Homo sapiens: one gene and its partner. The main gene of each other region encodes a partner of the protein of the gene in region 2 in a complex. Each region holds a gene or a part of one and is shown on either strand. Other genes may lie near its edges. A codon is read from its position in the direction of its gene.

Region 1 (6,633 bases), on a different chromosome or scaffold from region 2:
CCTTCCAGCAAATAACAGGTGCAAAGGCCCAGAAGCCTAGGGCATTTGTATTTGAGGGCAAGCAAGGGGTCTGTGTGCTGGAGAAGAGTGAGGAAGGTGAGAATTAGGGAGTGAGGCCTGGGAGATTATGAGGAAAGGAAACAGATCATACAGCGCCTTGGAGGCCATTATAAAGACTTTGGTTTTTACCCTTATGAGATGGGAAGCTATTGGCGGTTTTAGAGCAGGAAAGTGACATGATCTGATTTATGTTCCAAGGCTCATGCTGGCCACCTTGTTAAGACAAAACTGGAGGGAGGCAAGCAGAGCGGGGACACCAATGAGGTAACCATAGTGACCATCCAGAGGAGAAATGATGGTGGCCTGGAATAGGTAGTTCTGAGAAGTGTTGTATTTTGGAGGTAGATCAATAGAATTTATTGGTGCATTGAATATATATGATGTGAAAGAAAGCGGGGAGACAAAGATAACCTCAACGCTTTTGGCCTGAGCAGCTGTAAGACTGGGATTGCATTTGATCACAGGGCAAGCTCAGTCGGGCTCAAAACTGTTTGCTCCTTCCTGGCTGGAACTTCGTGTGGGCCTAAGATGTTTAACTGGAATTTCATCTGGCAGACTTAAACATTGTGTTCTTCTTTTAAAAGCTCAAATAACAAATATTCCAAAATGTAAAGCAAAAAAAGGATTTATTGAAATCATGTGACAATATATCCCTAACACCATGAAGAAGATGACAATTATGATTTCCATAGAGTATTTTGCACTTGCCTAAGCACAAAAGCAAAAACAGAGCAAGGCAAACAATATACAAACAAAACTTGATCCTATCTAATAACTTTCATGAAACAACCATAAATGAATTTTGTTTTATTAAGTCAGGCTTCAGGACTACTGAATTGCATTCACTAAAATGCTATTTGAAATTTTACTTACTCGCCACCCACCCCACTACTCTTAATTCATCGCCCTCTCCACAAAAGGACAAAAGGCAAAAAAGGTAGTAAGCAAAATATAAATAATAAGAATTCAAAAACAGAGATCAAAGTAAATTTTTTTTTCAGTCTCTGCGTCTATGCTCAAATCAATGTTTTCTGAGCATACAGGGAAGCAAGGAAACCAATTCTCTAGCTCTTGCTCTGCCTCTTATTCTCCTCCACCCCCCAATACATTTCTGAATATTTTTTAATCCATTTATCACTGAGTACTTGCATATAACTAGAAGCACCGACTATATTGTTATCAACTTTGGAGCAATTTTCATGGGGAATTGTACAAATGTTCTCTGATATGTATCTCCTCACTAGAAAGACAACCTTAAACATATATGAAGACTTAGCCTCAAGTGAAGAAGGCAGCTTTCTGTTGACCACACTGAGCCTTAGGTCACCAGATTTCTACTCAGGAGAGGCAGTGAGCAGGAGGGGCCAGTTTGGAGGGCTTTGTCTAGCTCTATAGTCTCTGTAGGCACCTACCAACACCGGTCCTTCTCCTGCTACCCACTGTGTGCTTCCAGCTTCAAGCTGAGTTCTCTGTATGGGGTCGACCCCAGCAGTTCCCAATAAACCATCATTCATGGGATCCTCCTATATAGAGATGAGGAAGGCGCCACAAGCAAGACACTCTTGGCCAGAAGGATTGAGTAATGAGGTTTCCTTTCTTCTTTGTCACTAAAAAAATTACATTTAATTTTGAGAATAAAGATAAGTTCTTCTAAGACAGGATTAAAAACTAAACAAAACAAAAACAAACAGAAAAGAAAAGCTTAATATATCTTTTAAATGAGGGACAATTGTACAGAGCAGACTTCCTTGTTGTTGATAGTTTTAATTCAGATATCAATCCAGAAATCATAAGATTTTTTTCCCCAAAACCTGTTCTTATTTACATAAAGTAGACTTTAAAACAAAATTTTGATTCATTAAGTAGAAATATTTAATAATAATAAATATATAAAAAGTATATTCATATAAAATAGAAATGTATGAAAAATATTCACCTTTATAGAAGTTTTAAATTGTCAAAGCAATGTCAATTTAATTGGCTCAATAAGAGAGTGAAAAACCATTGCTTCAGGACCGCCTCAGTCTGTAATGCTATTTTAAAAAAATTATTTCAACATTTTCTTAAATACTATTCCTTGGTTGTTAAATTTTTATTTTGCTGTATTAGAAGAATGAAGGTTGTTATTAGGGATGTTACATTCAGAAATAAAGTTCTGAATTTCATAGAACACTTTATTCTCTGCCTCATCTTTACATTTCAATTTTTCGGGGGGAATGTCGTTCAAATATAGTTTACAAATGAAATATAAAGGATAAAAGAATGGATAAACAAAGAAGTCCCCAAGGTGTAACAGTGAATATTGCTTTAAGAAAATACAAAAACAATTTTAAATAAGATCCTTCAAACACGAGTCATCCTGTTCTCAGGGAGCTTTAGAATTTCCACATTGCTGAATGCCAAATTCCACAAGTCATGGAATTTCCACACATCTCTCTTCACTTCTCTGACTTCTTCTGTCTAACATGGGCTGATATATTTCAGCCACTACACAGTAGCTGGAGTGTGGTGTTAGAGCTTCAATTTCAACCGCTCTGTGAGCCCCTTCATAAACCTTTTGCTCCTACACACGAGAGAGAAAATAATCAGTTGGTAAATGGCTGCCATTAAGTCACAGCTGCATTTTTGTTTAAATTAACAAGTTGTACATGGTCACAGCAGTAGATGGGTTGTGGGGTTTCTTCCCAGACACATCCTTCTTTTCTAGAGTCCTAGGCCATAGCCTGGTAAAGGGACAAGGCAAGTGGCTGTGTAGGTGCAACTTGACTTCTCCTTGAGGGCTGTTGGCTGGTTGACCCCATGGTCAGAGTCTTGTTTTTAAGAATTTTGTTTGTTTTTTGAGATACAGTTTCACTCCATCATCCAGCCTGGAGTGCAGTGTCACCATCTCGGCTCACTGCAACCTCTGCCTCTCAGGTTCAAGAGATTCTCGTGCCTCAGCCTCCTGAGTAGCTGGGATTGCAGACGCATACCACCACGCCTGGCTAATTTTTGTATTTTCAGTAGAGATGGAGTTTCACCATGTTGACCAGGCAGGTCTTGAACTCCTGACCTCAAATGATTTGCCTGCCTCAGCCTCCCAAAGTGCTGGGATTACAGGCATGAACCACCCCACCTGGCCTTCTTTTTAAGAATTTGAAGTGTGCAGTGAGAATGATGTGCAGCGAGATGAGCAGAGATAACTGCAGGCATGAAACTGTGGCCACATAGAGACAGAAAGTCTGAGAGACAGAGCAGGATCCCTTAGAACTCACTTCCGTTTCCCTTCCCAGTCACCACTAAGGCTGCCGGCACTCTACGTCCTGCCTCTGTCCCTGAGATTGCTTGCCTATCTCCTAATTATCCCTCCCCTCCTCTTTTGTTTCTAAACAAGTTAAACTGTGGTTTCTGCTCCTTACGACAAAAACCCCTCATCTTAGATGGCACCAAAAAAGGAACAAATTCAATTATCCACCAAATCCAGACAGAAGCACCGATGGTGGATTAGAATACCACTGCAAGGCCAGGCCTGGTGGCTCATGTTTGTAATGCCAGCAGTTTGGGAGGCCAAGGCAGGCAGATCAGTTGATCCCAGGAGTTTAAGACCAGCCCGGGCAACATGGCCAGAGCCTGTCCCTACTAAAAGTACAAAAAAACATAGCTGGGCATGGTGGCATGCACCTGTAGTCCCAGCTACTTGGGAGGCTGAGGTGGGAGGATCATTTGAGCCCAGGATGTTGAGGCTGCCGTGAGCTGTGATTGCACTGCTGCACCCCAGCCTGGGTGACAGAGTCAGACCCTGTCTCAAAAAAAAAATCGCAGCAAAACTGGCACAAAAATAATCATGTGATTCAAAAGCTATTTTAAAATAAGGTGTGAGGCCGGGGAGGTGGCTTATGCCTGCAATCCCAGCACTTTGGGAGGCCAAGGCTGGAGGATTGGTTGAGGCCAGGAGTTTGAGACCAGCCTGGGCAACATAGTGAGACCTTGCCTCTACAAAAAAAAAAAAAAAAAAAAAAAAAAAAAAGCTGGATGTGATGGGCATGCTTCTAGTCCCAGCTACTCAGGAGGCTGAAGAAGGAGGACCACTTAAGCCCAGAAGTTAGAGGCTACAGTGAGCTATGATCACCACTGTACTCCAGCCTGGGTGACAGAGTGACACCTGGTCTAAAAATAAAATACATAATAAATAAATAAATAAATAAATAAATAAATAAATAAATAAGGTGTGCAAAGCCCGTAAAAATGAATATTTGTGGCAGTCACATGCAATTAAATACGGTTAATACCAATCTTTAGATATGCAGGGAAGACTGTAGAGACAAACCGGAGGATGGAAAGGGCACACACACATTCTGATGGTGATGCCACCACCAACCGTTGATCAATGATGGCTGAGAGTAAGAAGAAATTAAAGATAAGGAAAAGTAAGAGGAGGCAGAGTAGCAGAAGAGGACATCTCATATGACCACAATATTGGTTAAATAAACAAAAGAAAAAAACTCTAAATATATCTATTCATCTGAACTTACCTTTTCTAGTGAATTGTTAATTATAAAAACTCGGTATAGTAGTTCATAGTAATCTTCTATAGATACATTTTTTTCCTTTTGGTATCTATATGGTAAATTTGGAGCATGGAGAATTACCAACAAAGAGCCATTGACTTGGGTTATATTCATGACTGGAGGATCTATTTTTGCTGAAGAAAAAACATAAAAATTTGACAAATCATCAAAGGAATGTATTATATACAGACGCATTATGTATAATGACAAATCAGCATGGTGGGAGGATCACCTGAGCCCAGGGAGGCCGAGGCTGCAGTGAGCTATGATCATGCCACTGCACTATAGCTTGTGTGGCATAGTGAAACCCATGTCAAAAAACAAAAATAAAAAAGAAAATTGCATATGTATTTGAATCTCGAACCTTTATAAATGTAGGGAGTGTTAGATTCTTAGCAGAATAAAGATGGAAACATACAAATTACTTTCCTCTGTTTATTGGAAGGGCTTTTCTTAATCTGACTTTTGTTTGTTTGTTTGGTTGGTTGGTTTTGGGTTTTTTTTTGAGACAGGATCTCATTATGTTGCCCAGGCTGGGCTCAAACTCCTGTACTCAAGTGATTCTCCTTCAGCTTCCTGAGTAGCTGAGATTACAGGTGCATGCCACCACATCCAGGCTAGTCTGACTTTTTATTGACAGTGTAGCCCTTGGAGGTTCTAAGACTTTTGTAGGGGTATTAGTTCTAACTCCCTGCCTTGTGCTGGCCTAAAACCTTGTCTTTTGTCCTGGGAGTGGCTGTTACCACTTAGGGTCTAGTTACCACATCCAGCAAATGCCTTCAGGGCAGCTGGGGCAGTCACTGTGTTGGTCTTCTGGTTCCCCTTTGATTTCCGTTTACTTTGTTTTGGCCCCCAAGGATTCCCTTTATTTTTATTTTTGCCCCTCTGTGGAGTTTGGAGAATGTGTTTTATCCAGAATTTCTAAGTGTTTTAGAAGAAGAGAGTTTCCTACTCCCAGGCTATTTAATTTGGAACCATAAGTTTTTAAAGCACTTTCCAACTATATTGGAATAATGGGATAGTTAACTTTAAATAAACATGTCCCTTTTGTAGTGAGGCACATATTTCAGGCATTGTCCTATCAGTGAGTCAGCTGCGGACATCACAGGGCTCCTGGCTTATGATCTGTGATGCTAGATTTTGCAATTGATTGCAAAATCAGTTTTGCAATCAGTTGCAAGTTTCTTGACCCATTCACTGGATTGTGATTGTGTTACAAGACCAAGTCAAGATTATTTGACCTCATAGCACTTTACTCTTTAACAGCTCTCTCCTTGAAATATTACCTTCCCGCACTATTCATGAACATATCAGCCCACAGATTTCCTCCTACCTCTTTGGCTATTCCTTCTCAGTCTCCTTTTAAGATTTTTCTTACTCAGGCATCTTTGGGTGAAAGTCCCTCAATATCTGGTCTTACTCAAAACTGCCTCTCACTCACTACTCTCTCCCTAGGCAATCCTATCAATGTCCACTGTACTGTATGCATGAAATGACTCACAAATTTTTGTCTCTAATAAAGACTTTACTTTGAGTCTTGGATCTGAAGAGATATGTCCCCTGGATCTCTTAAAAGCATATTAAGCTTAACATATTCAAAACCAAACTCATAATCTCTATTACCTTGCATCCCACCAAACTGGTCTTTTTCATCAAACCCCATCAAAAAGATCTCAGCAATTCATCTAATTATGCATGCAAGAAACTTAGAGGTCATCTTTGACATGTCCTCTTCACCATTATATCCGATCTATCACCTGGTCCTGCCAATGTTGCTTACTAAATGTCCCTCCAGGAATAAATTTTCTCTAGTCCTTTTCATAAGCCAAATTCGGTCTCCTGTAGACTATTATTAGTAACCTGCTACTTCACTTATCTGCATCCAACCTGTTCCCCAAAATATAGTCAAAATGATCTTTTCTATACACAAGTCTGATCATATGGCTCCTAAATAAAATTATGTTTTTCTGGAGGAAGTCACAACTCCTTAAAAAATTCTTGTACCTGCCTACCTTTCCAGTCCCAT
Region 2 (3,171 bases):
TTTGACCTCATATGAAAAGACCTACACAATCTTTCAAATCCCTTCCCCCAGGAATGGCTCTTCATTGCTGGCATCCTTTGTCCATTCTTCTTGGTAGAACAAATCCAACCTTTATCTCTACCTCTTTCTCTCTCTTCTCTGTAGCATTGTACACATTTTGAAGATGAACCCCTTTTCCTTTCTATGTGTGTTTCATAATATCTTGCCCATCTTCCACCTATGAGACTTCCCTATCAGTGCCAAACTTACTAGTAGGTATGACTCCCCAAAACACAGCTTTCCTTTTCCTTTAGTGTCTTACTTTCAGGGATACTGGAGAGTGCACCTTTCAGTAGGCCTGAACTAGAACTAAAACAGTTTATCTATAGCAATAGAGGCTACATGTACTTCTCTCCAGCAACATCATTCCTTTCTTTTATCCATAAATGACTAATGATAAGTTATTTTCAATTTCTCAACTTTTTTCTTTTCAAAGGTACATGCTGAGTCAACATAATAAATCAGTATAGGCACTATAGCAGAGAGCCTTGAAATCAGATAGACCTGGCTCAATAAGGGTCAACTATTTATAGTTATAAAATGTTTCTTAACATGTTTCTAATGCAGCTTTCTCATTTGTAAAATTAGAATAATACTAATAGCTACCTCATTTTCTTAGAGTCAAGAATAAAGTTATGGGAATGGTAACATGACAATGATGATGATGATGATGACATTAAAGGAGAAAAATCACAAAACGACAAGACTTAGGATATCCAAGTGTTTATTGAGGTCAAATAAACATGTTATAGCTCTATAATTATTGTCATAAATATCAATATTAGCCTTACACTCAAGTAGCAATATCGAATGATGTTTCTATAAATAAATCCATATTAATAAAATGATATAAATAAAATGCAGTCTTATAATAATAATAAATACATTTATAAATATAAAGTACTGATTATGGAAACATGAAGCTATTTAGGGGTTTTTTCCCCTAAAGGAATGGAAAGTAATCTTTTTTATGGAAAAAGACAATTATTTAAAAAATAAATTGTTTTCTGTGTATAGAACACCAGTTACAATGAAATGTTATCAATAAATATCTATGCTTAGAAAGTCTACCTTCTGGTCTTATAAACAAAAGTGGCATTGGTTTCCTTTGTAACTAACGCAGGGGTTCATTTGGAATCCACCCATCATGATGGAGTTTGGCTTCCCATCTTCCTTTTGGTTAAAAAAAATCGCTTTGGGGCATCTAATTGTTATTTCTAGCAGGGAAAGGGGGTTAGTTATTCATTTTTCAGCTTTGCTCTGGTCAAATGCAGGCATTTCTCAGAGACATAAACAGCAAATCCAGTTCTCCAATTGCTTTGATCTCTCCACTCTCTCCAAGCTGTGAAAATAAGAATGCAAAAGTATTTGAGCATTTATGCCATGTTTTCTAAAGTGAACAAATTAGAAATTGCAAGATTAGGTTGATGGAGACAGAAACCGAGTTTTAAGCATTTGTAAAACATTCATAGTAATATCCCTTTAGTATTGTATGATTTGCCAAAGAGCTTAAAATGACGGCTCTCTGGACTGAGAGGCCACCAGCAGGCATCAATTTCAGGTGCACCTCACACTAATGAAGCTGTTTAAAAGCTGGGCAGAGAGTTGACCACCCCTTCTTAACCAGAGCAAGGAGACTGAAGTGAGGCTGGGATCTGGGGGATCCCGAGTGCCACCCATTATGCCTTGGCCTGTTTTGCAGCTCCAAAACTATCTATGACAGATTACTTATAAGGAGCTTGTCCAACCTGCAGCCCACAGGCCGCACATGGCCCAGGACAGCTTTGAATGCACCCTAACAGAAATTCATAAACTTTCTTAAAACAGTATGAGATTTATGCATGGACTTTTTTAGCTCATCAGCTATTGTTCTTGTATTTTATGTGTGTACCAAGACAATTCTTTCAAGGTGGTCCAGGGAAGCCAAATGATTGGACACTCCTGATTTAAAACATCTCTACTCAAATGACTTTGAACCATGTATTCACCAATACATTAAGGCTTTTTCTATTTCCACCTTTTTGACAAACAGTAAAAGAAAAGTTTTCACTTTTGTGGGAAAAATACCAAATAAGTCTTTTCCACTTGCTTTAGTTAATAGAAAACCAGATATAGGTCCTAACATTCATTCTTTCTCTCTCCAAGTCAAATGCAGATGAGGATCCCAAACTTAATCGAAGAGGAAACCCAAATTCAAGTGAAAAGCATTCCCTACTGAAATTCCTCTAATCTATCATATTTGCATTATTTCAAGAAAAACCTTGTCACCATTGTCCTCTGTATAATACATGGTTCTTCCTTTTCCTGCTTTCTTCCGCCCTTTCACCTTTCCATACTTCTTTTGACATAAGGCCAAAAAGATATTCTTTTCTATCTCAAAGACTCCAAGACTATAAAGAATTTTAAAGTTTATCGTCCCCTACTGTCTGTCATGCATTTTACTACCAACCTGCGTTCTGCTTTTACCCCCAACGAGAGGGAATTAATGCCTCCCAAAACCACCCTATTTCAGACAGCTCTGACAGTTTCTCCTCCTGTTGATCTTTCTCTGAACAACATTGCTCTCCCTCCTGTGCTTTCTGAAGCTACCAGCAAAAAAGCATAATCACTCTTCCACATGGCAACCCATTGCAAATATGAAATTGATTCTTTCAAAATGGATTAAAGGTCTTGAAAATCACACAGATCACCATGAGATTCTCCTCTCTCACACTTCACTTTTCTAAAGACAACAAGCAAGATGAAATCAGTAATTTTTTAAGCAAGATGTGTAAAGCATGCCTTGTCTGTGGCATGCTAACATTCAGCCCTCCATGTCTAGATAATAGTTCTATAACAAGAGAACTGGGCTTCACAATTTAAAACTACAAAGCCTTCAATTATCAAAGGAAGAAACAGTCACACTCATTAAATGATGCTCAGGAAGAAACGCTTTTTTAAAAAGTCAAGAGGGAAAAAGGGGGAATTAAGGTTAAGCTTGTTACTGAAAATTCCATCAACTGGAGCCTTCATGTTTCTGAGTATTTAGTTGTACCTGCTTGCAAGAGCGTCACTTTCACTGCTCCTAATCATTCCTCCGGTTTTGGGGTGAGTCACTATTGTTAGTCTAAGCCTTCCATTGTTGTTCTTTTC

What was found.
Region 1: the proteins of IL22 (region 2) and IL22RA2 are in contact, whole or in part, in a crystal structure (PDB 3G9V), measured with the Homo sapiens proteins. Residues at the interface, in NP_065386.1 of Homo sapiens: Phe47, Gln48, Pro50, Thr53, Asn54, Phe57, Met58, Lys61, Ser64, Leu65, Asp67, Asn69, Thr70, Asp71, Val72, Arg73, Leu74, Lys162 (codon at 1,360), Gly165 (codon at 1,351), Glu166 (codon at 1,348), Asp168 (codon at 1,342), Leu169 (codon at 1,339), Met172 (codon at 1,330), Arg175 (codon at 1,321), Asn176 (codon at 1,318); in NP_443194.1 of Homo sapiens: Lys65, Ile66, Tyr99, Gly100, Gln101, Arg102, Trp104, Gln128, Glu129, Pro130, Tyr132, Met148, Pro150, Arg151, Thr153, Trp155, Trp156, Glu157, Glu200 (codon at 4,616), Pro246 (codon at 2,530), Met247 (codon at 2,527), Leu248 (codon at 2,524), Asp249 (codon at 2,521), Arg250 (codon at 2,518).

The regions. Positions count from the first base shown.
Region 1 is NC_000006.12:137,143,151-137,149,783, forward strand, and holds the end of IL22RA2 (interleukin-22 receptor subunit alpha-2 isoform 1 precursor), read right to left. Parts: intron 4,742-6,633; coding exon 4,572-4,741; intron 2,624-4,571; coding exon 2,474-2,623; 3' UTR 670-2,473; downstream 1-669. UniProt on the Homo sapiens protein: Isoform 2 is a receptor for IL22. Binds to IL22, prevents interaction with the functional IL-22R complex and blocks the activity of IL22 (in vitro). May play an important role as an IL22 antagonist in the regulation of inflammatory responses.
Region 2 is NC_000012.12:68,247,496-68,250,666, forward strand, and holds the end of IL22 (interleukin-22 precursor), read right to left. Parts: intron 1,382-3,171; coding exon 1,304-1,381; 3' UTR 747-1,303; downstream 1-746. UniProt on the Homo sapiens protein: Cytokine that plays a critical role in modulating tissue responses during inflammation. Plays an essential role in the regeneration of epithelial cells to maintain barrier function after injury and for the prevention of further tissue damage.